2 linked regions of the Homo sapiens genome follow. The protein of the gene in region 1 purifies or fractionates together with the protein of each later gene. This does not show direct contact. Each region holds a gene or a part of one and is shown on either strand. Other genes may lie near its edges. The genes, in order: FAM118B and DECR1.

What was found.
Region 2: the proteins of FAM118B (region 1) and DECR1 purify together in Homo sapiens (affinity purification with mass spectrometry; 2 studies listed by BioGRID and IntAct, with this or other methods). This does not show direct contact.

Annotation. Positions count from the first base shown.
Region 1 is NC_000011.10:126,242,824-126,258,659, reverse strand, and holds part of FAM118B (protein FAM118B), read right to left. Parts: intron 8,155-15,836; coding exon 7,927-8,154; intron 4,402-7,926; coding exon of another isoform or gene 4,356-4,401; coding exon 4,227-4,355; intron 3,510-4,226; exon of another isoform or gene 2,094-3,509; coding exon 1,808-2,093; coding exon of another isoform or gene 1,790-1,807; intron 1-1,789. UniProt on the Homo sapiens protein: May play a role in Cajal bodies formation.
Region 2 is NC_000008.11:89,999,545-90,015,380, reverse strand, and holds the start of DECR1 (2,4-dienoyl-CoA reductase [(3E)-enoyl-CoA-producing], mitochondrial isoform 1 precursor), read right to left. Parts: upstream 13,905-15,836; 5' UTR 13,889-13,904; coding exon 13,820-13,888; exon of another isoform or gene 10,012-13,819; intron 9,934-10,011; exon of another isoform or gene 9,146-9,933; coding exon of another isoform or gene 9,104-9,145; intron 1-9,103. UniProt on the Homo sapiens protein: Auxiliary enzyme of beta-oxidation. It participates in the metabolism of unsaturated fatty enoyl-CoA esters having double bonds in both even- and odd-numbered positions in mitochondria.

The sequences.
Region 1 (15,836 bases):
AACAGCAGGAGAGTCTAGAACACTGCAGGACACCAGAAAAACTCATTTCCAACAAAGAATAGTAAATAGTTTTCACAAATGAGACTTGTTCATGTGGTGATGGCTTTTAAAAGTCTGGTTCCATCAAAGCATAGCCATGGAAGAAGCTGTGTAATTTTTCATTACAGGAGAATTCTACTTGAAGCCATCTGATTCAGTTAAGAAATCTGGGGATGATTTGATTTAGGAAAACTGCTTTATGTTTATTAAATTACCTGTATGTTATTTATTTTAGAAACAGCGTCTTGCTTTATTGCTCAGACTGTAGGGCAGTGATGCAATCATAGCTCACTGCAGACTCCAACTCCTGGGCTCAAGTGATCCTCCTGCCTCAACCTCCCAAGCAGCTGGACTACAGGTGTGTGCCACCACACCTGGCTAATTTTTTGCAGAGACAGGTTCTCACTATGTTGCTCACACTCATCTTGAACTCCTGGCCTCAAGTGATCCTCCCACCTGGGCCTCCCACAGTGTTGGGATTACAGGACAAATTACCTGTACTTTTGCCCTCCTAAGATGCATTCAGGTTGACAATGAAAATACTTACATAAGTTTTCAGGAAATATTCTGTGCACAACAGCCAAGTTTTTTTGGAATTAGATGGATGAGTCACACTAGCCATACTCTGGAGCCTGGCAATGTGAGGTTTTGAAAAAGCATTCTTCAGTTTAGCTGATACCAAAAATGTTTGTGTTTTGTGCGGTTACTGGGAATTTGCCTGCAGCCACTAATCAGCTGAATCTTTAATCACCATTTTGCTCTTTATTGTTAGAATGTGGAGGTAAAATATCAAGTGTATGATACCCCTATCCTCTGACTTGAATATCACCATTATCCGTTTCCAAATAGCATTTCTAAAAGTAAGTTTTCTGTTTGTAAATATAATACATAATCATCATAGAAAATGCCAATACAGAAACCAAAAAATCAACACTTTAAATCCTACTAAAGATAGCCACTTAATTTAGTAAACATTCCAGATACATTTCTACACGCACCAAAAAAAAAAAAAAAATGTACAATTCTATATGAATATAGCTGACCATGGTATTTACAACCTGCTTTTTCTTCCTTTACTCATATGTCTCTAACTTTTTTTTTTATGGCAATGAAAACACTTTCCCTTCTATGGTTTCATTGTATTTCATCAATTAAATAAATATTGGCATATCTGTAGAATCTCCACCAATTTTAGGATCCTTCCAATTTTTTGCCACTACATTCAATGGAAATTACATTCCCACGCATGCATCTTTGTACAATTGTGTGATTGTGCAATCATCCAATTATCTCCTTATGAGAAACTTCTAGGATAAATTGTTTTGATGGGATTTCTAGGTCAAAGATTTGAAAATTTTTGTTACATCTTCTAATTTATGGTCATAAAAGTTGTACTAACTTTACCTTTCCACAAATACTCCATGAATAAATTTATTTTCTCACAGCCTTAGCCAAAATTGGGTGATCTTTCTTCGCTATTTTGTAATCTAAATTCAAACTGCATTTCATTGATAACTAGTGAGGCTGAACATCTGTTTTCTTCATTCTTCCTATGTCTATATTGAACTGCTCAAGTATTCCTTTTTGTCTGTCTTCCCATAATCCAAGTGGCACTTTAGTCTAACCTGAAGACTGTGGCCTCCTTTACAATTTGGTCAGTCATTACATTCCTCATCTTGGCAACTATTTTGCCCATCACATCACAAATACACAAAAGGCTGAAGAGCTGTTGTTCTCTGATTCCCCTCAGCTTCAAAATGCATCTTACCTGATGTACCCCTTGTGGAGATCTCACATGTCAGTCGCTTGAAATATTCTGGAAGATCGGCATAGTCATCTCCATAGGAGATGACTTTAATCCCCTTGTCCAGCATGTTTTCTCGAAGCTTTTTGAACTCATCTACGTCTCCTCTCCGAACCAGCATGAAATGTTCTAGGTCAGATTTATGCTTGACAGCCTCCAAGAAAAGGGCCTGGAAAGTGGTGTCATCCACAGTCCAGCCACAGCCCAGGAAAAGAAATGACTTGTTTTCGTAGAGTTTCTGAATTTCTCTCTGGAAGGAAAAGATACAACATATTGACATTGTGAAGACACACTCAAGGCAAGTCTGAAACAAGAAGGTCATGCTACGTTGAGCAGACTGTGATGACCAATTAAGCAAGACTTAAGTGGGTTGGTATGTCCCATCAAGGAGTGTGATCTCTTGCTTATTGCTGTAACTTGATGATTGGTCTAAAATTTTATCTTTACCTGCCATTCTTCTGTAGGCTCTCTAATCAGCGTTTCATAGAGCTGGTGTCAGTGTACTGGTGCAGTAGTTTACTTCTTTATTTTTTATGCTTTATATATTTTTTGAGACGGAGTCTCACTCTTTCACCTGGGCTAGAGTGTAGTGGTGTGACCTCGGCTTACTGCAACCTCCACCACCCTGGTTCAAGTGACTCTCATGCCTCAGCCTCCCGAGTATATTACAAGTGTGCACCACCACACCCAGCTAATTTTTGAATGTTTAGTAGAGACGGGGTTTTGCCATGTTGGCCAGGCTGGTCTGGTACTCCCGACCTCGAGTGATCCACCCACCTTGGCCTCCCAAAGTGCTGGGATTACAGGCGTGAGCCACTGCACTTGGCCAGTAGTTTACTTTTTTATTTTTATTTTATTTTTGAGACAGAGTCTTGCTCTGCCACCTAGGCTGGAGTGCAGTGGCATGGTCTTGGCTCACTGCAACCTCCTCTGCCTCCCAGGTTCAAGCGATTCTCCTGCCTCAGACTCCCAAGTAGCTGGCATTACAGGCACCTGCCAGCACGCCCAGCTAATTTTCCTATTTTTAGTAGAGACAGGGTTTCACCATGTTGGCCAGGCTGGTCTGGAACTCCTGACCTCATGTGATCTGCCTGCCTCAGCCTCCCAAAGTGTTGGGATTACAGGCGTACTTTTTTAGATTTATGTGCCCAGAGGTCATTGTGCAAAGAGTAGGTCTTCATATATCTTAATCCTTCCATTTCTGGACCATATTTGCCTTTGTCTCACAAACTGAACTGTGAATCACCAGAGAAGATAATTCCATCATCGGATTTGCTCAAGGAAAGGCGTTTGATACTTAGAACATCAGTATGTGTGTGTGTGTGTATACATATACACACACAAAAACACAGAAATGACTGCCTAAGGGATCACTCAATGTCAGAGATGGATGCAGTTATGGCAGATGTTGGGAAAGAATGGGTAAAAAGAAAAAAAAGTCCCTTGTGCTTTAGACAATACATTTTCTCGGTCTTTTGCCTCATTATTAAAAGATGCTATAATCTATATGACCCAGTCCTGAAAACAGCAAACAAGATTCTTAGAGCTGGGGGCAGCGAATACTTCTGGTTTGAACATGTTTATCTGAACAAGTCGAAAATGTGCATCCCAAAAGATCAATAAGCTTTTCACAAAGAGTAAGTGTGAATAAATGTGGTTAATTCAATATAAGCCCATTGCCATTTATACAAAGTCTCTTTAGAATGTATTCTCTAGTAGTGGTTGGTTTGTTAAGAAGCTGCCTCAATTATTTCTGACACAGAGAGGGCTATTAATAAACCAAATGATGATAAAGGGTACTAATGTATCCTTTGTATGTGAAGATGATGCCAATGATGACATGCCATCTGCTGGTTGTCAATTAAGTACAAACAAAGATCATAGGGTTTGACACCTTAAGAGAAATTCTACATTTCCTAGACAGCATGCACACCCATAAGTTAAGAAGCACAGGAAGAACGTCTGACTTTCCAGTTTCTTTCTTTTTTTAGAGATAGGGCCTTGCTCTGTCACCCAAGCTGGAGTGCAGTGGCTCTAGACACAGCTCACTACAGCCTTATATTCCTAGTCTCAACTAATCTTCCTGCCTCAGCCTCCCAAGTAGCTGGGACAGCATGCACCATGATGCCTAGCTAATTTTATTTTTGTAAAGACAAGAGTCTCGCTATGTTGCCCAGGCTGGTCTCGAACTCCTGGCCTCAGGTGATCCTCTCCCCTTGGCCTCCCAAAGTGTTGGGATTATAGGCATGAGCCACTGCTCCTAGCCCCTGACCTTCCGTTTTCACTTAATGAAAAGAAGATGTTCCCCTTTAAGATCTATGGCATATTTAGAGAGATTTCCCAGGAAGGAGTTCCTGAGACCAGCAAGATCAGCCCCACTCACCATGACTTCAGTGTTCCTGAGCACGTTCTGATATCCAGCCGGATGAAGGACAATGCCACTAGGGTTGGTGTAGACTCCGTGAATATGCAACACGCTCAGCTTACGCTTCTCCTGAGCCCACTCGAGGACCTGCACAACACACATATAGCCCAACCAGCTTGGCAGGGCTGAGCACCTGTTTAAAGGTCACAATGGGCAAGAGGCTGTTTTGAGGACTAGACTTCTGACATAAACTCTCTAGCTTCATGATATAGGACAAGAATGCAAAACCTGATGTGGTCTAAGTTTCCACTTCAGGAATGACTGTCAAGAATGATGGCAACAAATTTGGTGATTTCTCTTTGAAAGTAAGCATCAAAAATCACAATTTGTCATAATTTGCAGAAACAACAGGGACCCTTTGCACTGGTGGCATGCATGAGAGCTATGGACAACTGCTTCAGTGATCGCCCCAAGAAATCAAGCCTCTGTATCCAGGCCCTTGTGTGGCCCCTCTTCGGAGTGACTCCAGGCTAACCACATGGCTTGCTTTTAGCCAATGGGATACTAGCAAACACACACAAGCAGAAGCTTGAAAAGTGTTGGCACAAGAAGTCTTACTTCTCTTGTGTTACTTTTGGAATCCAGCTGCCATGCGAAGAAAGTGAAGAAGCCTGGGCTAGCCTGCTGGGACATATATGGCCTGGCCAATTGCTTGCAGGGAAGTATGGTCCCCTTATATCACTCAGCCCTGGTGCGGCCATCAGATGTCTGCAGGTATGTGAAGAGGGTGCAAAAATCAGCAGAAAAAATGCCTGGCTGAGTCACTGAGCCCAGTTCAAATTGTTAATATACTTTATCATGGGCAGATAAGATATTTGTTGTTACAAGCCACAAAGTTTCACGGCCATTACTTGTACAGCAATAGATAAGTGATAGAAAAATCACTTCAGTCACCTCTGAGGAACCTAAAAGGCTGCCAGCGAAGAACAATCATTTAGACAACAGCGAATGCAATAGCCACCTGATTCCATGGCTCCATTTTCCCAAGGACTGGAGACAGCATACATTTATTCTTATCACATTTTGGAGAAATAGGCTATGAATCAGGAAAGTAGTCAAGAGGCACCGAGATTTAGAATTTGAATGTTACTAGGCCCCATTCTGACTACCAGTCAATGTCTTTAACCATTAGACTGCAACACTGCCCCTAATGTGGGCTGAAAATACAATGCAAATCTTGAGGCCCAAGGATGAAATGAGAAGGAAAACATCAAATGTGATAGATATCCTCAGCTTTTAAAAGGTCCTTATGCTTCTGATATCCATGAACACACTTGGTCATAATCTTTGGAAATTTTATCACAAATAGCATAGAAGCTGCTAGTTTTAAAATTTCAATCATTTGTTTGTTTGTTTTTAGACAGAGTCTTGGTCTGTTGCCCAGATTGGAGCACAGTGGCGCAATCTTGGCTCACTGAAACCTCTGCCTCCTGGGTTCAAATGATTCTCCTGCCTCAGCCTCCCAAGTAACTGGGATTACAGGCGTGCACCACCACTCCCAGCTAGTTTTTGTATTCTTAGTAAAGACGGGGTTTCACCATGTTGGACAGGCTGGTCTCAAAATCCTGACCTCAAGTGATCCACCCACCTCGGCCACCCAAAATGCTGGGATTACAGACGTGAACCACTGTGCCCAGCCTATTTATTTAGAGACATGATCTTATGCTGTCACCCAGGCTGGAGTGCAACAGTGTGATCACAACTCACTGTAGCCTCGACTGCCTCAGCTCAATCGATCGTCCTGCTTCAGCCTCCCAAGTAGCTGGGACCACAGGCAAACACCACCATGCCCGGCTAATTTTTAAACTTTTTGTAGAGATGGGGTCTTGCTATGATGCCCAGGTTGGTCTTGAACTAGGCTCAAGTGATCCTCCCGCCTCAGCTTCCCAAAGTGCTGGGGTTACAGGCCTGAGCTGCTGTGCCCAGCCCAATCATTTATTAATCAAAAAAATATTTACCAAGCACCTAACTGTCATATTTGAGACATGAGGGTTGTATTTGAGTTATGAGGGTAAGAAAGACTAACATGATACCTATCCAAGTGAAGTTACTATTCCTATGGGGTAAACAGTCAGAAAACAGATAAACAGCCAAGATAAAAACTGTGCTGGGTGTGGTGGCTCATGCCTGTAATCCCAGCACTTTGGGAGGCTAAGGTGGGCAGATCACCTGAGGTCAGGAGTTCGAGACCAGCCTGGCCAACATGGTGAAACCCTGTCTCTACTGAAAATACAAAAATTAGCCAGACGTGATGGCGGGTGCCTGTAATCCCAGCTATTCGGGACGCTGAGGCAGGAGAATCGCTTGAACCCAGGAGGAGGAGGTTGCAGTGAGCTGAGATCATGCCATTGCACTTCAGCCTGGGCGACAAGAGCAAAACTCCATCTCAAAACAAAACAAAACAAAACAAAACAAAACGGCCAGGCACATGCCTGTAATCCCAGTACTTTGGGAGGCTGAGGTTAGCAGATCACCTGAGGTCAGGAGTTTGAGACTAGCCTGACCAACATGGAGAAACCCCGTCTCTACCAAAAATACAAAATTAGCCGGGCGTTGTGGCACATGCCTGTAATCCCAGCTACTCAGGAGGGTGAGGCAGGAGAATCACTTGAACCCAGGGCAACAAGAGCGAAACTGTCTCTCAAAAAAAAAAAAAAAAAGCTGCAAGTTAATACTAAGTGCTACAAAGGAAACGGACAAGAGACTGGATAAAAAAAATAAGTATCCAATTTAAATAGGATGGTCAGAGAAGGTCTCTCAGGAGGGGATCCCTAGGTTGAGAGTTATAAATGAAGAAGGAGCTGACCATACAGAATATGAGGGCGTAGGCGGAAGACACTTGGACCAGAGAAAACTAGTCTTCATGGGGCAGCTTTTCTCTAAATTCAATTCCCTTTAAATCCTGCCATCAAGGTCAGCAAAACCACAAGAGTGGTATTTCAGCTACCACTCTGGCAGGGGCAATACTGTAGTACTGAATGCCAGCAGGCAAATCACTTGTCTATTCAACTCTACTTAGTTGGGCTCTAAATTGGACATAAAGGCAGATTCCTGAGGAAAACAAAGTGTAGGAAAAAACATTACAAAAATCACAGAGTAGGACCAATGAGACTTTAAGAACTCATCTCATTAGCTGACACAGATCAACATCTATAATTCAATAATTATGGTAGGTACAGTATAGACTATGCTAAAACAAAGTCTGCTGAGGTTTCCACTAAACATTAACCTCAATTCAGCCATCGCTTGGCCTGGAAGTTGTTCTTCCAATCAGTATAAAGTAGTTTTCATACATTTCCAATAGATGCCATAAAAAAAGGTATCCTAAAATAGAACCAGCATTATCAATATTACACCACTGAATACTGTCAAGTGCTAAAGAGATCTTACAGTTCAAGTGACTTCCTCTAATCTTGCTTTAAAACTGGATGAAATTGTCAAGAGTCATAGAACTGAACACTTTTAAGTTCTATGCATTTTACTGTATATTGATTTGATCTTTAAAAAGAAAGAAAAAAGAAAAACAAAAACTCCAACCAGGGAAAAAATTTTTCCTTTCTAGCTCTACATAAATACCAATATACCAACTAGAAAAGAGCTTTTCTGAGGAAGATAAAATCCACTAGCCTGAAGAAGGGACCAATGCTTTACTTTTTACCTTTTTCTCATCAGTAAGGTCAAGGGATTCAAGCTGTTTCCCCTGATCTGCTGCATACAGTTCCAAGAGATTATCAAAATTTGTAGTTAATACGAGGGCTCCATTTTCCATCAGGTGGAGAACTGACTGAAGTAGCTGTTTTCCAGAATCTTCCATCTTTGACTCCAAGTCATCAAATACTTCATATAAACAGTCCTTGAAAAATGTGGATCGAACATTACTGGTACGCTGAGGAGGGATTTGAAAAAAGAAAATTAGTCCAAAGTGCTTTGGTAGGTCAGTTGTTTTAGTTACAGCAGTAACAAATTTTGGAAGAATATTTTGAATTCAAAACAGAGATAAAGGCCAGGCGCAGTGGCTCACGCCTGTAATCCCAGCACTTTGGGAGACCGAGGCGGGCGGATCACGAGGTCAGGAGATCGAGACCATCCTGGCTAACACGGTGAAACCCCGTCTCTACTAAAAATAAAAAAAATTAGCAGGGCGTGGTGACAGGCGCCTGTAGTCCCAGCTACTTGGGAGGCTGAGGCAGGAGAATGGTGTGAACCCAGGAGGCGGAGCTTGCAGTGAGCCGAGATCGCGTCACTGCACTCCAGCCTGGGCGACGGAGCGAGACTCCATCTCAAAAAAAAAAAAAAAAATCCCGGGGATAAAATATTATCTATCTCATACGAACGTAATAAGGAAGATGAGATGATACATGCCAAGTGCTTAGCACAATGCTTAGCAGATAGCAAGTGCTACTATACGTAAGCTTCCTAAAATAGGCATTTTTATAGAATGAAGAAAATAAACCTGGCCAAGGGATATGAATTTACTGTCGGTATTAAAGGGAAGCTGGGGTACAAAGCAGAGCGACAACTACCCTCTCATGAGGTGCCAGGTAAGAAGGCAACACTTTCCGTTCATCTTGCCTTATGTAGGGAAACGCCACTGAGACACAGCCCTAATTGTGGTTTGGCATCTCCTTTTCTTTTTCTTTTTTTTTTTTTTTTTTTTTTTGAGACGGAGTCTCATTCTGTCACCCAGGCTGGAGTGCAGTGGCGTGATCTCGGCTCACTGCAACCTCCGCCCCGCCAGGTTCAAGCAATTCTCCTGCCTCAGCTTCCCAAGTAGCTGGGATTACAGGCGCCTGCCACTGTGCTCAGCTAATTTTTGTATTTTTAGTAGAGACGGGGTTTCACCATCTTGGCCAGGCTGGTCTTGAACTCCTGACCTTGTGATCCACTCACCTCAGCCTCCCAAAGTGCTGGGATTACAGGTGTGAGCTACCACACCCAGCCTCAGCATCTCCTTTTCTAATCCTAGGTGTTTGTACAGCTGTTTATGAATTTAGGAAAAACTGCTTAACTTCTACATGCCATAATTCAGCAGTTCATAGGTTTATTCTGAAGAATATCCAGTATACAAAAGGTTAACGTAAACAATTTAATACGTTTTTTAAATTAAAAATTTGCATTTTGCAACTGTTGAAAACATCAAACACCAATCAGTTCTAAACAGAATCCCAATGTCTTGTTTTGCAGATGTGAGGTCTGGCTATGTTGTCCAGGTAGGTCTTGAATTCCTGGGATCTCAAGTGATCCTCCCACCTCAGCCTCCCAAAGTGTTGGGATTATGGGTATCAGCCACTTTTCCAGACCTCCTACTTCTTAACATACGGCTTACTTAAATAACTGCTTTTCAGATTCATTTTGAATACATGTAAATATCCCTGAGTACTAATGAGGAACTATAATACCAACTTCAGGTGGGAAACTGGCTTTACAACTGAAAAGACAAAGTGGCTCTTGGGACGAAGGGAATTTGAAATGGGAAAGTAACTATGTAATGTGATGTAATATCTGATCCCTAGCCTGTCTGTGAAATGCCATTTGCTAGGGTTTGGACTGGTCCCCTAACGTTCATGTGTTGGAAACTTAACCCCAACGGAACTGTGTTGGGAGGCGAGACCTAGTAAGACGTGATTAAGTCACGAGGGCCGTGCCTCCATGAATTGATTAATGTCATTATTGCAGGAGTAGATTTGTTATCCTAAGTGTGTCAGTTATAAAAGCGAGTCTGGGCCGGGCGTGCTGGCTCACGCCTGTAATCCCAGCACTTTGGGAGGCCAAGGCGGGTGGATCACGAGGTCAAGAGATCGAGACCATCCTGGCCAACATGGTGAAACCCCATCTCTCTACTAAAAATAAAAAAATTAGCTGGGCGTGGTGGTGGTGCCTGTAGTGCCAGCTACTCGGGAGGCTGAGGCAGGAGAATCGCTTGAATCCGGGAGGCAGAGGTTGTAGTGAGCCAAGATCGCACCATTGCACTCCAGCCTGGGCAACAAGAGCGAAACTCCATCTCAAAAAAAAAAAAAAAAAAAAAAAAAAAAAGTCAACTACTATTGAAGGTCAGATACTTTTTTAGATTTGTTATAAAAAATATGGTGCTCTTTTCTTGTCTACCCAAATCACAAATCCATTTGCCCTATGATCTAGCAGTCACATGTATCCTACAAATACAATTTCAAACAAATGAAATGACACATATGAGGTTATCACTGCATCATTATTTTATTTTATTTTTTATTTATTTTTATTTTTCTTGAGACAGAGTCTTGCTCTGTTGCCCAGCCTGGAGTGCAATGGCGTGATTTTGGCTCACTGCAACCTCTGCCTCTCTGGTTCAGGTGATTCTCCTGATTCATCCTCCCGAGTAGCTGGGACTACAGGTGCGTGCCACCACGCCTTGTATATATATATACAATATATATAATGTATTGATAGTGTGTGTCTGTGAGTCAGAGTACAAAAATATATATATAGATATACGTATCTATATAGATATACGTATATCTATATATATATATAGATATATATATATATTTTTTTTTTGAGATGGAGTCTCGATCTGTCACCCAGGCTGGAGTGCAGTGGCGTGGTCTCAGCTCACTGCAACCTCCGCCTCCTGGGTTCAAGCAATTCCCCTGCCTCAGCCTCCCGAGTAGCTGGGATTACAGGTGCCTGCCACCACGCCAGGCTAATTTTTTGTGTTTTTAGTAGAGATGGGTTTCACCATGTTGGCTAGGCTGGTCTTGAACTTCTGACCTTGTGATCTGCCCGCCTCGGCCTCCCAAAGTGTTGGGATTGCAGGCGTGAGCCACCGCGCTGGCAAATACGTACTACATTTTAACACCAGTTTTATTATTACACACACCGATAAAAAGGCCTGGGTATACAATCACATAATCATGGGTGTGGAACATATTTTCTTGCTTCTAAGAAAAAGAATAGAAAAGGTTAAAACCTGGGGGGAAAAAAATCCAGGTCACTTATTTTAATTAAGTATCTTTTAGACCTATTTAAGCTACTAAATCCTACATATCAACATAGGAAGGAAATATGATTCTGCAACTGCATTGATTTCCTCAAGATTCAAAATGGAAGTTTGTCTCTTTTTTTGAGAGAAAGTCTGGCTCTGTCACCAAGCTGGAGTACAGTGGCATGAACGTGGCTCATTGCAGCCTTGACCTGCTGGGCTCAAGCAATCTTCCTGCCTCAGTCTCCCAAGTGGCTAGGACTACAGGCGCACACCACCACGCCGACTACTTTTTAAATTTTTCGTACAGACAGGGTCTCACTATGTTGCCCAAGCTGTTCTCAAACTTCTGGCCTCAAGTGATCCTCTTGCCTCAGCCTCCTGTGTAGGTGGGACCACAGGCGTGTACCACCACACTAGGCTAATTTTAAAATTTGTGTAGAGATAGGGGGTCCCGCTTTGTTTCCCAGGCTGGAAAGTTTTTTTCTCTTAAAGCAGATGACCCTAGAACTAAATTTGCCACCAGTGGCCTTTATAAGCAAAGACAAAGGAATGAAAACATAAACAGGGAGGCTCAGTAGTCAGAAGGAAATGCCAAACTCCCACACAACTTCTAAGGGCCTTTTCCCATTCATCTAAAACAGTGACCTTCATTTCCTTCTACCCTGAAACTTAGTAAAAACAAGAAACAAAAAATTGGCATGGTAGCTCAAGCCTGTAATCTCAGTTTTTGGGAAGCTGAAACAGGAAGATCACTTGAGCCCAGGAGTTCAACACCAGCCTGGGCAACACAGGGAGACCCCATTTCTATTTAAAAAAAGAAAGAAAAAAAACCTGTTCCCCCACCGCCTCCCGCCCCAGGGTTATTAACATTTCTAGTGCATCAACTATGTGCCAGACATTTTATACACATTATCTCACCTATTCTTCACAAAGCGACACAAGGAAGTAATATCCCAGTTTCACAGGTGCAAAAACAGATGTTGACAAGTTAAGGGATTTGTGCAGGGTTCCAGTGCATTTAAGTGGCAGAGTCTGATTCCAAAACCTAAGCTCTTTGCAGTGAATCTGTAATGTCACTTCCCCAGTATACATTAAACTGGCTCGGTAGATAGGCCTGTTAACCCTGCCATAGTACTGCTGAGTTGATACTGTTAGATTTGATTCTTTTCTAATATGGACATTTCCAAACACACACAAAAGTCAGAAAAGTACATACAAAACAAAAACATAATCGCAATACTTCTATCTCACCTAAAAAATATTAATGTCTTAATATTAGTGTTTAAATTTCCCCTAAATATATCATTTTTATTATTAAGTTGTAATAGTTCTTTATATATTCTGGATACTAGATTTTTGTCAAATATGATCTACAAATAATTTCCTCCATTCTGTGGGTTCTCTTTTCTTTCTTTCTTTCTTTTTTTTTTTTTTGGGACGGAGTCTCGTACCTGTTGCCCAGGCTGGAGTGCAATGGCGCTATCTCGGCTCACTGCAACCTCCGCCTCCCGGGTTCAAGCAATTCTCCTGCCTCAGCCTCCCCAGTAGCTGTGACTACAGGCATGCGCCACCACGCCCAGCTAATTATGTATTTTTATTAGAGATGGGGTTTCACCATGTTGGCCAGGCTGGTCTCGAACTTCCGACCTCAGGTGATCCGCCTGCCTTGGCCACCCAAATTGCTGGGATTACAGGAGTTAGCCACTGCGCTCGGCCTCATTTTTTTTTCTTTTTTAGAGCCGAGGGTCTCACTATGTTGCCCAGGCTGAGGTACAATGACATGATCATAGCTGATTGCAGCCTCGAACTCCTGGGATCAAATGATCCTCCTACCTCAGCCTCCCAAGTAGTTGGGATTACAGGTACAAGCCACTGTGCCTGGCTCTGTTTTCACTTTCTTGATGACAACCATTACAGCACTTCCGTTTCAAAGTCTCATCATGTCCAATTTATCTAGTTTTCTTCTGTTGCTGGTGCCTTCAGTGTCTGATCTGAGAATCCTTTGCCATGCTGCCTTAGTTACTGTGGCTCTGTAGTAAGCTTTGAAAGAAAAAAAAATTTGAGTCTCCCTACTTTGTTCTTTTTCAAGACGGTCTTGGCTACCCTAGGTCCCTTGTAATTTCATATGAAGTTTTAATTTTTTTTTTTAGAGACAGGGTCTCACTATGTTGCCCAGGCTAGAGTGCAGTGGCTATTCAGACGCAATCCCACTACTGATCAGCATGAGAGTTTTGACCTGCTCCATTTCCAATCTGTGTTTGTTCACCCCTCTTTAGGCAACCTGGTGGTCCCCTGCTCCTGGGAGCCCAGAACTCCTGGGCTCAAGCCCTCCAGCAATCCTCCTGCCTCAGCCTCCCAAGTAGATGGGACTACAGGTGCATGCCATGGTGCCTGGCCCCATATGAATTTTAAATCAGTTTGTCAATTTCTACAAAATCAGCAGCTGGATCCTAATAGGGACCATGCTTAATCTGTAGACCAATTTGCAGAGTATTCCATCTTAATAATATTAAGTCTTCTGATTCAGGAACATGGCATGTCTTTCCATTTATTTAGATCTTCTTTCATTTCTTTCAGTGTTTTGTAGTTTTCAAAGCATAAGTTCTCCACTTATTTATTTATTTTTTGAGATGGAGTTTCGCTCTTGTTGCCCAGGCTGGAGTGCAGTGGAGGGATCCTGGCTCGCTGCAACCTCTGCTCCCAGGTTCAAGTGATTCTCCTGCCTCCACCTCCCGAGTAGCTGGGATTATAGGCACCCGCCATCATGCTCAGCTAATTTTTGTATTTTTAGTAGAGACGGGGTTTCACCATGTTGGCCAGGCTGGTCTCTACCTCCCGACCTCAGGTGATCCGCCCACCTCGGCCTCCCAAAGCGCTGAGACAACAGGCATGGGCCACCACGCCTAGCCTTCTGTACTTCTTTCGTTAAATTTATTCCTAGCTATTTTACTATTTTTGATGCCAAGTGGAAGAATTTTTAATATTTCATTTTAGTATTGTTCACTGCAAGTGTATAAAAATACTATTTTTATATATTGATCCCGGATTCTCCAACCTTGCTAAGCTTGTTAGTTCTAATAGAGGATAACCTAGGATCTTCTATAGACTAGATCATCACATCTGCAAACAGAGGCAGTTTACTTCTTCCTTTCCAATATGGATTCCTTTAGTTTTCTTGCTTAACTGCCCGGTCTAGAACATCCAGCACCATGTTGGACAGGAGTGGAGTGGGAAAACAGCCTTGTCTTGCTGCTGATCTTAGTGGAAAAAATCCAGTCTTTCACCATTAAATATGTTAACTGTGAGTTTTTCATATACGGTCTTTATCGTGTTGAGGTAGTTACCTTCTATTGTTTGCTATTATTCCTTCATTTGTAGAGTGTGGCTTTTTTAAAAAAAATCATGAAAGAGTGTTGCATTTTGCTAACATGTTTTTTCTGCACCTACTGAGAAAATCATGTGGTTTTGTCTTTTATCCTATTGATATGATGCATTATATTGATATGCAGACTTTTTTTTTTTTTTTTGAGACGGAGTCTTGCTCTGTCGTCCAGGCTGTAGTGCAGTGGTGCGATCTTGGCTCACTGCAGCCCCTGCCTCCCGGGTTCCAGCAATTCTCCTGCCTCAGCCTCCTGGGTAGCTGGGATTACAGGCATGCACTACCATGCCCAGCTAATTTTTGTATTTTTAGTAGAGACAGGGTTTTGCCATGTTGGTCCGGCTGATCTCGAACTCCTGACCTCAAGTGATCTGCCCACCTTGGCTTCCCAAAGTGCTAGGATTACAGGTGTGAGCCACCGCACCTGGCCTGATATGCAGATGTTAAACCAACCTTTCATTCCCCAGAAGACTCTGACTTCCTCATGGGTACTGCATTCAGTCTGGTTGTACTTTGTTGAGGATTTTTGTGTCCATGTTCCTAAGAGATCCTGGCTGGTTTGTAGTTTTCCTTTTTTTTTTTTAGAGGCAGACAGGGTCTTGCTCTGTCACCGAGACTGCAGTGCAGTAGCACGATCACAGCTCAGTGGAGTCTTGAACTCCAGGGCCCAAGTGATGCTTGTGCCTCATCCTTCCAAAGCGTTGGGCTTACAGGCCTGAACCACTGTGTTTAGTCATTTTCATTTCTTCTGATGTCTTTTGTTTGGTTTTGTTATCAGGATAATATGGGCCTCATACAATGAGTTGGAAGTACTCCCTCCTACTCTATTTTTTAGCATAGTTTGGGAAGAATTTCCTCTAGCCCTGTCAAGCAATAATCTACTTTCTGTTCTATGGATTTGCCTGTTCTGGACATTTTATATGAATGGAATCATACAATATATGTCCTTTTGTGTCTGGCTTCTTTTACTTAATGTTTTCAAGGTTCATCCATGTTGTTGTATGGGACGAGCACTTCATTCCTTTTAATGGCCAATTAACATTGCATGGACAGACATTTTGTTTCTCCATTCATGAACTAGACATTTGAGTTGTTTCCACTATTTTGGCTATTATGAATAACGTTGCTATGAACATGAGTGTACAGTTGCTGCATGAATATGCTTTCCATTCGCTTAGGTATATACTTATGAGTGCAGTTGCTGGTTCATAGAATCACTGTTCAACTT
Region 2 (15,836 bases), on another chromosome or scaffold:
TCCTCAAAACAGCTCTATAAGGTAAATTCAATTGTTACTTCTATTTTATAGATGAAAAAAACTGAAGCACAGAAAGGTCAAGTAGCTAGCTGTTAAAGATAAATAATAATAGGGAATAAAGACTTAAATCCAGTATCTGTCTGACTTCAGAGTCCACCCATTACTTTACAGTTATGGTTAAGTGATGAGATTATAGATAATTATTTGTTTTTTTTTGTTTGTTTGTTTGATTGGTTTTTAGTACTTTCCAAATCTATCCAATAAGTATGATTAGATCTTTACAAGCAGAAAAAAAGTTACTGAAAGACAAAATTTGAGATCATGTATAAAATAATTGAAGATACATTTGTAAATCTTGTTATGCTCCATGCCAGTCATCATATTTATTTTAGCTTCATGTTGACAAAGCATTTTCTTTTCATATCCTTTTGCCAAAGCACAGTAATCCAAGCAACTCTACAATAATCTTTTTCTACATAAGTGGCAGTTTTCCTTAAAGCTGCCACCTGCCTTCAGAACTATTACATTAAGATGATGAATCAAGAAGTTCACTCAAGTAGAATGGTAAATTTGTCATTAAGTAATAATAATGAAAAAAATGTATTCTAATTTTCTGAAGGCTTTCCCATAATTTTTAACTTTTTAATGTTAATGTGTATAGGGGATTTGATGTGGGACTTCATGAAAATAATTAAACAAGATATTTGCATACAAACTTTCTTTTTAAATTTATTTTAAAACATTTCCTCAACCTCCTCACTGGTAGAGAAAAGGATATAAAGGTAAAAATGTCACATGTGGTAAAAATAATTCCTAGTGTCCATAATGTAACAGGTTATTACATAGCACATTTTTATCTTATATGATCTGATCAATACTAACCTTATGATTCCACTTCCTCACCAAACCAAAGTGAAGAAATTGATAAGCTATTTTAATTCTCATTACCCTCTGACAATACACAGCATATGTGTTAATATAAATTCAAGCCATCTTCTCTGCCTAAAAGGAAGATGTTCATTTCAACCTTAAGACCCATTGAGATGATCAGATCTCACAGGATCACATCATATTCAATCCCGTTTCTACAAGGAAGCATCCTTAATAACCTTAAACAGTATTTTGGTTGGGCTTTTTTGAATTATAAAAAGTAGATACAAAACAGGCTTTTAAAGATTTTCAAGTCTTGCTTTATGGTTTTTAGAGAAATAAGTTTTTTTCAAAAATATAAATAACACCTTTCGTATCAAGATTGATTTCTCTTGAGATCTTTAGTGACCTAAAATTCTTAAAACTTTCTAGAGTCTTCCAACTTTGGCAATACAGAATTATTTTTTAGTTACAAGCTCTAAATCTCTCCCTCAAAAAATTAGCTATCACCTACCTTCCTCACCATACTCATCCCTCTCCTACATCATATAAACAATAGCTTCCTCCTTCATGTATTCCAAAATTACAGCATCTAAACTAATGAGACATGATCATACTTTTAATCTTCAAAATGGCAGTTCTGAGAGTTGACACTGCACCTTCCCCTCAAGGATAAGGACTGTATATCAATGAGATATATACCTAAATTACTTAAGTATATTTTGGCTAGTCTAAAATGTCTAGGGTAAATATCTCAAATAACAGTAGATTAGTGATTCTAGGCCAAATATGTTTTTAAAACTTGAGCCCAAAGTTTTTAAAACTTGAGCCAACATTTAGATAATGGAAGAATTCACATAAAAGTCAGAAGCTCTACCAACACTTGGGTACACCTTACCACATGATTAAGTACAACTACGACTGCCCCCTTGAGACAAGGCCTGAGCTCTGTCCAGCCCCGACTCACACAGGAAAAGTGAGCCCTTTTCACTGGGTGGCCTTTCATAAACAAGGCCTTCAAGGACTTTAGGCCTCTGAGTATGTGACTCCTAGATGCCTATTGTAAGTAACACACAAGAAACCAATACAAAAAAAAAAAAAAAAAAAAAAACGAAAGAAGAGGCAAGGCTTTTATTTTGGAACCACAACTAAATTTCATTTAAAACAAATTTCTACAAAAATCATTGTTTAATGTGTGTGCTAGGTACATTATTAAGAAGATCCAGTTTCAAATATATAAAACTCATACAATAATAGTCTCTCATATGGAAGTTGTAAGGCTAAATGAGTTATCTTTTGAGCACTTAGTTTAGCTATTTATCATCGTCGTCATCATCATCACTATGGATGGGTCCTCCACATTAAAATTCCATTCCTCAAAAACATGGATGCCTTCCAAAGTCAAAAAGACAAAAATCAAACTCTTGAGCATGGCATTCAAGCCACTGGACAATATGGTGCCAACGTATTAATACTTTCCTAGCCCCACCTCGTGACTGATCTGCCATGTAGAAGTAAACTCTACACTTACCAAGCCCTCACAATTCCAAAAACTTGCCAACTACTTTCACCTTCTGGCCTTTGCTCCTGCTTTCTCATTGGCCTGAACCACCCACTGTCTTTCTCAACCCAGCAGAATTGGCCTTCAAAACCAGACAACATTGTCAATATCTCTGTCAACACTTTAAATTGTACCCTATTAAAAACAGGCAAATGGAAGGCTTCCAAATTGGCCTGCTAAGGAGTTGCCACAATTCATTTCAACATATCAGGATGCTTAGGAAGCCAGGGACACGACCTTATATTCATCACTATAGTACAGTTTCTGGCACCAGTTAGGCATTCGGTAAATGCTTGTCTTACTTAATGTAACACTTGGTTGGCCAGACTCCAATTGCATTAGAAAGCACATGGATACAGACATGTAGTCTTATGTGAATATATGATTGAAATCCAGCTTTTGCCACTTGTTTTAAAAAATTAGTCATTTCCAATGACCCTAAATTATGACATCTTAAACATTAGAATAAGCCCAAGAATAGAAAATCTAAATCATCAGGCCGGGCACGGTAGCTAACACCTGTAATCCCAGCACTTTGGGAGGCCGAGGCAGGTGGACCACCTGAGATCAGGAGTTCGAGACCAACCTGGCCAACATGGTGAAACCCCATCTCTACTAAAAATACAAAAATTAGCCGGGCGTGGTGGCATGCGCCTGTAGTCCCAGCTATTCGAGAGGCTGAGGCAGGAGAATTTCTTGAACCCAGATGGCGGAGGTTGCAGTGAGCCAAGATCGTGCCACCACACTCCAGCCTGGGCAACGGAACAAGACTCCCTCTTAAAAAAAAAAAAAAGAAAAGAAAAGAAAATCTAAATCAATCTATACAAGTACTGAGTTACTTGCAAATAGAAAAACTAAGCAAAGGGCTTAGAAAGGTACTCCACACAAACAAAAAACAAATATACGACCATATTTATAACTAAATAAGCATATTTAAACAAAAGGAGACATAATTTTTCTCTTACCAGACCAGCAAGGTTCAAAATTTTATCATCTATAATACAAGAAACAGTTGATTAAAGCCACCCTTACAATCTGTTGATAAGAATTCTGGCAACTTCTTAGGAGGCCAATCTGGCAACATTTTTTTAAATGTTAGATACAAATACTCTTTGACCCAGCAAATCCACATGCAGGAATTTATCTAAAAGAAATACTCATTCATTTGGGAAAGAAGCAGGGGGAGAAGGAGCTATGATCAAAGATATACATTAAGATGAAAATGAAATTAAGAAAACAATTCTGTTTATAATCATATTGAAAAGAATACTAATACATTTAATAAAAGAAGTACAAGACTTATAAATTGAAAACTATGAAACATCATTAAGAAATTAAAGACCTAAGTAAACAAAAAGACATTATATGTTCATGGACTGGAAAGCTTAATTTTGTTAAGAGGACAACACTTCCTAAATTGATATACAGATTCAACAAAATCCCTATCAAAATCCTAATCAGCTTTTTGTGAACGTCGACAAGCTTATCCTAAAATTGTTTTGAAAATGCAAGAGACTCAAAATAGCCAAAGAGATTCATTAAAGAATTGTTTGTAATAGAAAGACTACAAAACAATCTATGTGTGTTTCCTTAGGGGACATAGCCAATGAATTAGAGCACATCTATATTACAAAATACAGTTATATGGATCTATTATCTACCAAAAGAAGGAGCTGGAATGTATATGCTGACTGTAAACATTGCTATAGATGTATTATTTTTTAATTATTCAATAAGTATTTGTTGGATACCAACAATGTGAGACACTATGTGTTAAGTGTAAAACTCAAGGTAGAGAAATACATGTAACAGGCTCCCCTTCATGTGGTTTTTTAAAATGAGGATATCTTCATACATATGTTGACATATGCACAAAAACTGTCAGAAGTATCCACAAGAACCTATTCATAGTAATAACCATAGTAATAATAACCTTATTACACTGTCACTGCATATCCTTTTATATTGCTTGAATGTTCAACATGTTCATAAATTTTTTTTCTTTAACAATAGCTAACAGAAAACTGAATCATATAGGCAAGCACACAATACAAGAAGTACGTAGAGGAAAACAGAGCAAGAAAAAAAATGGCCTAGAATCAATTTCATGATAAGGACATATACCTTACTTGAAGCATAACTACTCTATATTAAACACTAAAGTGTGAGCTATATTTATAAAGATAATGAAATATTTCCACATCTATTTTCTTGGAGCTTCTACGTATCTGTTGGTTCAGGTTGAATCAATATTTTTTAGATCAAATTTACTCCAACTGGAATTCACATAAGAGTTTTGCAGACTGGGCCCTAACTGCCATATTAAACTATCAGCGTGGTAAACACTGGACAACCATATTTTTCAAAGGATGAGTTTCAAAAGTGTACATCTTTGCATTCCCAAAACACCTTATGTACTCCCTGAATACAGGAAGCCTTCCATAACTACTTCCCAATTTATTTTGTCCGATTGCTAGAAGGCCATGCGTGCATTCTTTCCAATGGCCACACCACTGCCACTTCAGCACAGTGTATGTGGTCCTTAGCTGGAGGTATCTGGTAATACAAGGGATAGTTTGGTGGGATGTTCTACTGGATGTTCCAGTGCAGAAAAGGACAGCCTTGCAGAATGAAGAACTGTCTCACCCCAAATGCCAACAGTTGCCCTGCAGACATTAAAATAACTGAGTACCACACCAAAAGCTTGCCACAGGCCTCGTTAACTCATGCTCCATGACTGTGTAGATTGCTTAAGCACATCTGCCTGCTCCTTAACTTATAGCAGGGCACTGAACAGAGGCCACTGATATTCTCAGCTTCCGCAGAGCACAGATCTTGTTGCCACAGCAACCTGAAGGTAAGGCTAAACAAATATAAAAGAAACTGCCCAGCTGGACTCCAAGCTCCAATGGCTAAGCTGAATTATGCAGTTGCCAGGAGCAAGACAGAAATTACATTTTTGAGGAATGATACATTTTGTATCAGTGAACATGAGTCCTTGAAAATGTCGGTGCTCTATGCCATAGGGTGTACATCTCATTTTATTACAGTGGTTATCTGTCTGCAGTTAGATGCAGACTGAACAGATGCTTCTCCAATACAACAAAATAAAAAGAGATGAAATCACAGACCTAAGAGGCAATTTGAAATTTTCAGCTAGGGTCTTCACTCCTGCCTGCCTCTGATTTGAGTCATCTCTTATTGATCCCCTATCATGTTAACCAAAACTATAATGACAATCTTTTTTAAACCAAAAATTAGAATCTCTGCTCTTGCAAAGAGTTTGTTTTGGGAATTTGCTTACATAAAAAAGTATTAGGGATAAACATGACATTATGATGGATATAGAGTTTATTCATTTATTCATTTTAAGCAAGTGTTTATTGAGCATATATTAAGCCCCAGGCACTGTTCTAGGCATGGCAGTACGGCAGTAAAAAAAAAAAACAGACACAATATTCTATTCTCAGCAAGATTATCCTTGGGGGAATGAGGGATAAAGAAATTAAGTTAAATATGTAGTATATTAAAAGTTGATATGTAGTGTGGGGAAAAAATAAGGCAGAGAATAGGGATAGAGCATTGCTACTTTAAATAGAGTCATCAGCAAAGGCCTCATTGAGAAGGTGACATTGGAGCAAAGACGTGAAGGAGAAGAATGAATCACAGGGTTTTAGGCAAAAGGGATTGGGAGCAAAGGCCCTAAGCAGGGGGCATGCTTATGGATGGGGTAACAGTCAGGAAGCCAGTGTGGCTGGAGAAGAAGGAAGGAGGGAGACAGGGGCAGGAGAAGAGGTCAGTGAGGTAAAGGGGACTGGACCATGCAGGCTGAGTCAGCCACTACGGAGACTTAGGCTTTTACTCTGAGGCAAGTGGGAAACATCTTCTAAGTTTTAAGGAGAGAATGGACATGATCTGCCTTAAGTTTTAAGGGGATTGTTCTGGCTGCCATGGAGTGTAGAGGGCAAGGTTGGAAGCAGGGAAACTATTAGGACACTTGTATAACAAGCCAGGCAAGAGATGGTGATGCTTAGCCCAGGATGCTATCATGTGAACTGGTGGGAAGTTAGCAAATAAAACTACTTGCAAGAGCAAAGGTCCCAAAAAATGAGGACGTAATGAGTCACCACTGTACCTAATATCGCCTGGTCCAATTATTTCTTCTTTTTCTTAATGTTTTATTAATACATAACATTTTAACCTATTTATGGGGTACATGTGATATTTTATTCCATGCATAGAATGTGTAATGATCAAGTCAGGATATTTAAGATATCCACTAGATCCATGATTTCTTCTTGCCTCTTGCCCAACAACATGAGCTTGGACTTTTGTTCTTGATCTATTTCATCACATTTTTGCCTGTTTCATTAACAGCATATAAACAGGTCTCCTGTTTACTGAAAAGAACTGAGAGAGATTTTTCTACCTCTCTCATCTTTACCTCAATATCCCTGTTACATCTGCACTGCCTTTGTGTTCTAGAAAAATTAAGATTTAAATGTGAGCCAGAAAAAAGGAAATGGAGACTCATCAGACAGAAGTCATTAAGTGTACATGAGAGATACCGAGGGCAGTAGAAATTAAGAGAAGACAACATATTCCACACACATTTAACATGTAAATTAGCCTGAACCCAGAACCCAACCAGCCAGACCTGGCAAGTAAGGTGAGAGCTGTGGAAGGTAACTGAGTTCTAGTTTTAAGTGGCTGCATGCAGAGTGATGCTCTGACTGAAATGACTGGGTTGACATGAGAAGACCAAGTTGGAGCATTGAGGATAATGAGTTCTGCATCAGAAATGCTGCACTTGGGATGCTTCTGGAATAGTCAGGTAGAGATATCTAAGCTGCAGTAGGAAATATGGTTTTGAAGCATGAAGAATAAATTAGGGCTAAAGGTAAATGGCAACATCATTTCATCATTCCAGCAATTATGAAAGCCTACAGTTCTATCACTGCTTTTATGTTACAATGCAGTGTGAGGGTTTCCCAGACTGGAAGGGATAAAAGTGCAGTTGACCTTGTATTCTAGACTTACTTATCATTACCCTGGCACTTCAATCTCAGAATGATTCATCAACTTAGGAAGAGAAGAGCGCAGGACAGCTGAGAATGCTGATCATTTTCTACCTAGAATTTTCTGCAAAAACTAAAAGTTGCTAAACATCTATTGCATGCTTTCTACCATGGGCTGTAAGAAACTCTGGATAACTTTAAAATTCCCCCCTCTTTTGATGTCATTATCATGACCTTTGGGAGATATCTGAGATCTAGATTATTTTTTGTAATAATATAAAGTTTGCTTTGTAGTTTGGGCAGGAAGTTTGTTTGAAATTTCTTCAAATGCATCCTTAAGCTACAAGGCCAAGATTCATCCATTAACCCCACCCCCACCACCTGCCCTGCCCTGCCCCACCTTGGTGACTCCCTCTCCTCTTCACCTGATACATCCCATCCGTCTATAAGCCCCATGCCTTTTACCTCCCCAGTGTCCCTCTATATCCACCACCTGATTTCAAACCCCTATCTCACAACATTCACAAACATTGGGGGCCTATTCTGTGTCATCTTTTAACTGATCTTCCGAGGACTGCTAATGGGATCATGTTACTTCTCTTCTTAAGATCTTCTAAGGGCTCCTGGTAGCTGCAGAATATCCAGATTCCTTCGCTCCCCATAGCATATGTCTTCACGACCTAGCTCCTGTCCCTCTCTTCTGCCTCATCTCCCCTGAAATTTACACTCAGGAAAACAAAGTACTCAGGATTCCCCAAACATGAACTCTTTCCTACTTTCCTGTCTTTACACAAATTGCTCCCTATCATCACCCAACATTCATCATTGAAACCCAGCTGTGAGAGCTCTGGTGCTTTCCCTAACACTCCCAGGGAGAATTAACATTCTCTCCTCTACTTCTGTAGCTTATTTATCTATATACCACTTGAGGAGTCCCAGACCCTACTGACATTTCAGGACTGATGTCACTTACTCCTCTTCTCCCTCCAGCCCCCACTTAATGTCCTCACTCAAGAGAGTGGCACTGTCCTTAGCTCAGGGGCCAAAGACAGAAATCTGGGCTTCATCTTACCCCATACATTCAAACCAAGCCCAGTTCGTTTTAGTCCCCAGTAGCTCTAATGCTATCCTCAGTTCAGACCCTCATCACTGGTGTTTGGATGTTTGGTCTCCCTACTTCCAGTCTTACCTGATGATATCGTATTTCTGCTCACAATTTTGATGGCAACATGTCACCACTGAGCATAGCCCCATCTCTCATCCTCACCACCAACCAATCACCAAGGCCTCTGATTTTACCTCCTAAATATCACTCAACTTTGAGTGTCTCCAAACCCAATGCATGCCCTCGTTGAGGCCACCATCACCTCTCAACAGATGAGAGGATTACTCAGGGTTTAGCCATTTGTCTCCACTCCCACCCTGCAGGACAAAGTTCTAACTCTTTAACGCAGCCAACAGGCTGCTCACTAAGCTGTCTCTCACCTCCTGCCTCCCCACTCTCTGTTGATAACCTTTATGCTGGGCCTTCACATAGACTACTCTCCTGTTTAAAACATTCTTACATCTCTCCCTTTGGCTAACTCCTACTCATCTTTCAGGTCTCAGCTTTGATATATACCAAACAACAACACTCTCATAAAACTGGACATACCTCCCCCATGAGCAGGAGATGCTTCTTCCCCAGTCCTGACATCTCCCTACTGTGAGAAGTTCAGGTAGTACAACTCCAGGCTTCTTTCTGTCCCCTTAGTCAACCTGCTAAGGATGTTTGGATGTTTGTCCCTTGAAAACTCATGTTGAAATGTGATCCCCAATGTTGGAGGTGGGGTCTAATGGGAGGTGCCTGGGTTATGGTGGCAGATCCATCATGAATGTCGTAGTACCATCTTCATCCTGGCAGTGGCAAGTGAGTTTGCACTCTATTAGTTCCCACTAAAGCAGGTTGTGAAAGAACCTGGCACCTCCCAACACCCTCTCACTTCCTCTCTTGCCGGCACCTCCCAACACCCTCTCACTTCCTCTCTTGCCGGCACCTCCCAACACCCCCTCACTTCCATCTCTGCAAACTCCAGCTCCCCTTCACCTTCTGCCACAAGTGCAAGCAGCCTTAGGCCGTCACCAGATGCAGATGCCCAGTCTTGAACTTGTCCAGGCATCAGAATCATGAGTCAAACAAACCCTTTTCTTTATAAATTACCCAGCCTCAGGTATTCCTTTATAGCAACACAGACTGAGGTACAATCTGTCTGTGCAGAGACAGTTGATATGACTGGTAAATTTTGACAGGATCGTTGGGTATGAACAGTTCTCCTTGGTCTTCTTCCTTTTGGGAGCCAGCTGCCTTCAGAGGACAATGTTCTGCCCTCCTCCAGAGTTATGTAAGTCCGCCTACTTCGGGAGATCCAGCTGATAGGCCCAGCTTCCTCTCACAAACCACAATAAAAGTGATACTTTGGCTTCCATCTTTACTCATTTTTCAGACTGGAAAAAACGGATGCTATTTATTTGGGATCCCATCCAAAAGCAAGAACACCCAACCTAACATGCGGCACATCATACCATAATGCCATTGGACTCTATGCTTCTTGACAGCAGGAATCAGCTCTTCTTCTCACCTTCATATCCCTAGTAAGGTGCCTAGCAAATAGTAAATGCTCAATTTTCTACATAAATAAGAAAAGCCCACCATACCCTGTCCCCCAGCAACCTGACTGATCTCGTCTCCACACGCTTCTCTCTGTTCCCATACTTCACCAACTCCACAATACCAAACAAACCACTTGAATTTTTATAAATAAGCCACTCTTTCACTTCTTGATACATGCTATTCCTTAGGTCTATATTGCCATTGGGACCACACAAATTCCAACTCCTGATTTAACAGCAGGCTCCTGGGGCCACCTCCTCCATGAAGCTTTCCTTGCCTCCTCTAGGTATGTACAGTTTGGGTCATATATGCATTATAATACACATCTGCATCTTCACAGTCTATTGATGTCTGCTGGTGACTCACTAGACTATCATTTTTCAGATTTTTCTGACTGTGAACCATAGCAAGAAATGTGATTTATATAGCAACATACACATGTTCATAGCAACACAGTACACACGTTCATTCATGTAACAGATATTTGTTACATGTTTACTCTATGCTAAGCACTGTTCTAGGTATAAACAGTGGACAAAACAGTTGAAAATCTTTGCCTGCATAGAGCTTATATTCCAGAATTTTACACTGAATAAAGAAATACTTAGGCTTCCAGATTTAAAAAAAATAAAGAAAACACATCTAGTTGGTTTTATACTGCTCCAAGACAATATTCATCGTGAGAAAACAATGAAACAATGTTGACTAAGGGAAAATGTGACATCCAAGTAAAATTATGCCTATCCATCCTTTTACCAGAACAGATGCCTGGAATGATATACACCAAATGCTAACCCAAGTTAATTCTAGGTGGCCAGTTTGAGGTCATATCTTACTTTGTTAACTGTATTGCTGAATATTGGCCAGGAATCATTTTTCTAAAAATAGTGATTTTACTCTTGATAGTTACTATTCTTTTTTTTTTTTTTCTTTTTGAGATAGAATCTCACTTTGTTGCCCAGGCTGGAGTGCAATGGCGTGATCTTGGCTCACTGCAACCTCTGCCTCCTAGGTTCAAGTGATTCTCCTGCCTCAGCCTCCTGAGTAGCTCCTGCCTCAGCCTCCTGAGTAGCTGGGATTACAGGCACGCGCCACCACGCCCGGCTAATTTTTATATTTTCAGTAGAGACAGGGTTTCACCATGTTGATCAGGTTGGATAGTTATTACTCTTGATAAAAACAAAAGGAAAAGAAACATGGCAGTGTGCATGATAGTAATCAAAGAATGAATCAAAAAAGGAAGAATGGTAAATTTTTTTTTTAAAGTTTCACAAAATGAACAACCTTACTACATGAGATGAATTTAGATATATCCTATTCTATTCCATTTTTTTGTTTTTGAGATGGAGTCTCACTCACTCTATCGCCAGGTTGGACTACAGTGGCGCGACCTCAGCTCACTGCAACCTCTGCCTCCCAGGTTAAAGCGATTCTCCTGCCTCAGCCTCCCAAGTAGCTGGGACTACAGGCGTGTGAAACCACACCCAGTAATTTTTGTATTTTTACTAGAGACAGGGTTTCACCATGTTGGCCAGGATAGTCTTGATCTCTTGATCTAATGATCCACCCGCCTCAGCCTCCCAAAGTGCTGTTTTGCTCCACTAAATTGATTTCAAGGCCTACTCATTGGTTATTATTTGTGGCTTAAAATACATATATGAGACTATAGTACATTGAAGGCAGGAATGTCTTTCAACCACAAATTGCCAAAGAATGCCCAATACTTAATAGGTACTTAATTAATTAGTGTTTCCTCATAAACAACTGAATGACTGAATGTTTTCCTCAATAGAACTGAGAGCAACTTGAGAACAGTTGAGAGCAGGGCTCGTATTTTTTAAATTTTGAGTCCCAGGGCATAGCACAGGGCCAGACATAAAGCCAGTCCTCAATAAATATTTATTAAATTGAAATGAGGCCTATTAGCCAGCAGCACAATTTAACACAGCACTTCACAAACAGGTTTTATAACAAATTAAACATTTGCCTTGGTTCTTGGTAACAAAAATATTCAAATTAGGGGTTTTAATTATAACAACTTGTATTTGCCCACAAAAACATGATGTTCCCTGGAACAACCTCCCACATCACAGATGTAAAGACTTTTCTTCTCCCAGGAATTCAAACTTGAGGCTACATGTGCTAGGAAGGGGACAAACCACACTAACAGGTACCTCTCTTGCCTCCCAACCCTGAACCTCAAAACTTCCATATTTTTCTTCAGCAAAGGAATTTCAAAATTGTCAGATTACAATTAATTTTTAAATGAGTTCATTTTCTCCTTCTCAAACTGTATTGTCTAATGGTGTCAGAAGAGCTTGGATAAGGTCTGTATGACCTTATTGCTACAATCCTAATGATGTGTGTTAAAAAATGAAATCTCTGAAGACATCACAGAGCTGTTGTAGATTTCAAATGAGAAATGTCTCTGAAAAGTATCAGAAAATATGGGCTTCCTTTATAATGATCTATAACCCAGTTTTCACAGGGAGAGAAAAAAAATCAGCAAAACCCTAACCCTGAACAAATCTCACTTTTTAAAAGAAAGATACCTTACTTGAGGGAACCACCATACTAATTCTTTGTATTCCTATTTGGAACTACTGCTGCCCATATTTTTTGAAAAACAACACCATGGCTGTCTATTCTATCAAATCAAAAGAAGTTTTTTCACAGTTGACATATTAATTTTTCTACCTGGCTAAAGAAAATGTGCTTTTTAGTTTACTTATAACAATTTTGTAATTTAGATGTGGGGAGGGCTTGTCTTGGATATTATTGCTTCTTTTTGTTTTTGTTTCTCTTTCTTCTTCCTAGCTGTTTTCACTTCCTAGCTATTTCCACTATGGGTGCAATGGAGATGGTGACAGGAGTGTGGGCCAGAGAGAGGGGGAAGCCAGTGTGAGACGGACCTCTCCCAGCTATACATCTGGGAAGGGGAGTCTATAAACAGCTGGGGTTTTGTTTTTGTTTCATTTTTATGATAATTTGTTTGTATTAGTGTTTAATTCCATAACTAACACATAGATGGACTTTCCTCACAACAAAGGACGTCAAAGGTCAGTGCTCGCTCGGCCTGATCCCCTCTCACTCCTTAAGGGGTGGACGGGCGCCGTATCCTTCCCTACCTCTTTCTACCTATTTACACACAAGTTGGAAACTTGCAGAACTGTGAAAACTTCGAAAATCACGTCTCTTCCCTATTCCCCTACACACATCAGGGCTTCATCTGACAGTGGAATACGACCCGGGCCCCGGTGCTCACTCCCGGCGTTGCCCTTCGCTCCGGGACCTGGTGGTCCTCTCTCTCTGCGCCCCAAAACGCCCTGTCCTAGCTCCCTGAGCCCCAGGGACGCCGGGTCCTCTCTTTGTGCCCCAAGACTTCCTGCCCTTTCTCTTGCGCCCCGAGACGTCCTGTCCTCTCTCTCGCTCCCCGGGTTGCTCTGTGCTCTCTTAGCGCTCCAGAACGCCCTGTCCTCTCTCTTTGAGCCCCGGGACACCCTGTCCTCGCTCCCCGAGGCCCCGGGACGCCCTGTCCTCTCTCTCTCTGCGCCTCGGGATGCCCTGTCCTCGCTCCCCGAACCCCCGGGACGCCCTGTCCTCTCTCTTTGCGCCCCAGGATGCCTTGTCCTCGCTCCCCGAGCCCCCGTGACGCCCTGTCCTCTCTCTTTGCGCGTCGAGACGCCCTGTCCTCGCTCCCCGCGCCCCCGGCCGCCTTACCCTCCGAGGAGCGAGGCCACAGGGCAGCCGGGACCCCAGAGTAAAGAAAACCCTGGCCGGTAGCTTCATGTTGAGTCTCCAGAACTCGGGCCGGAAGGCGGCGCAGGCGGTTGGGCGCAGGGGGCGGGACAAAAAGAACAAAGTTCTCGGGGCTGGAAACGCTGCCTAGGCCGCCGGGGGATGGGACGGGGACTGGGACCCAGGCGGCGTGGACGCCCAGCGGCCCTGACCTTCAGAGTCCGGCCGAGGGCGCCGCCTAGCTGGGCCTAGCTGATGCTCTTTCCTGCTCTCTGGGCCAGGAGTGCTTTGTATGGCAGAGAATGGAGGTTCTTTGCGTCCTTGAGCGGGTGTACGAAACCCCGCGCCCTGCAAGGGTTTGCAGATTGCAGCTGCGCACCCCATACACTGCCTATCAAGGGCGAAACTCTTTTTCAGTCGTATGTGTTTATCCCTTAAGTGCGTGTTTAAGTGCAGAGTGCGCGTGGCGCCAAGTCACATATTATCAGAATAATAATATGTTGGATGTAAAACACGGCCTCACTTTCCCTAAGACCAAGAGGCTGAAAAACACTAAGGGCAGCTTCCGGCGTTTTGACTTTTCGCAGGACACACCGCCCCCTGTCGCCGGATGCAGCGTGACTGCGACCGCCCAGCCTTGGCTTTTTTCTCGAAGTTAAACACACGTTAAAGGCAAACACAGATTCAGTATATCATTCTCCATCTTAGTGTAATATACCTGTTGACACAAGGCATTAGCTCAGATCACATTTCTTTCCTCATTCGTAAAATGAGAATATTCATAGCTAATTCAGAATTTTAGATAAAAGAAGATGGGTGTGAGGCCCCAGGCTGAGGCTGATGGTAGATGATATTGAGTGTTTACTATTTGCCTGGCATGTTCCAAATGCTGATAAAGAAACATTTATATCTTCAGAGGAATGTACACTTACATGTAGACATATAGCTTATAAGGTATATAAACTCTGAAAAACTTTGTAATTTTGAGTTGGTCTGGTGATAATTTCCAGGCCTTCTGCCTGTAACTGGTTACAGAAATAAAAACTTTCTTCATCCCCAGTTCATCGACATCTCATTATTGGCAGCAAGAAATAGCAGCCTGACCCTCAGTTTGGTCCAGGAACAAAACTACCACAGATTGGGTGGCTTAAATGGAAATTTGTTTTCTCACAATTCTGGAGGCCACAAGTCAGCAGAGTTGGTTTCTTGTGGAGCCACTGTGGGACCATCTTCTCCCTGTGTCTTTACATGATCCTCCTGTGTACCTTTCCATATCTAAATTGCCTCTTCTTATGAGGACACCAGTCGTGTTGGATTAAGGCCCACCCTCAATGACCTAATTTAACTGGAATTACCTCCCTAAAGACTCTATCTCCAAATATAGCCACATTCTGACATACTGGGGGTTAAGAGTTCAATGTATATATTTGGCTGGGAGAAGAGGGAAGTACACAATTCAGCCCAGAACACTTGCCCTCTTAAATAACTTTTAGACCAGCTTAGGAGGCATTTTCTGTCCTCCCAAAAAAACCTTGAGAATATATCAATAATAAAACTTTTCCTAAGCTCTTGATATATGTATGGCACTGTTATTCTTGACTTCCAAACCAAATTGTAAGTGGGATTCATCTTGTTTCTAAAAAGAAGTTGCAACATTAGTGATACGGTTTGGATTTGTGTCCCTACCCAAATCTCATGTTGAATTGTAATCTCCAGTGTTGGAATTGGGGCCTGGTAGGAGGTGATTGGATCACGGGGACAGATTTCTTCCTTTGGTGCTATTCTCCTGATAGAGTTCTCAGGAGATCTGGTTGTTTAAAAGTGTGTGGCACCTCCCACCCTCTCTCTTCCTCCTGCTCCAGCTGTGTAAGACAGCCTGCTTCCCCTTCATCTTCCACCATGATTGTAAGTTTCCTGAGGCCTCTCAAGTCATGCTTCCTATATAGCCTGCAGAACTGTGAGTCAATTAAACTTCGTTTCTTTATAAATTACTCAGTAT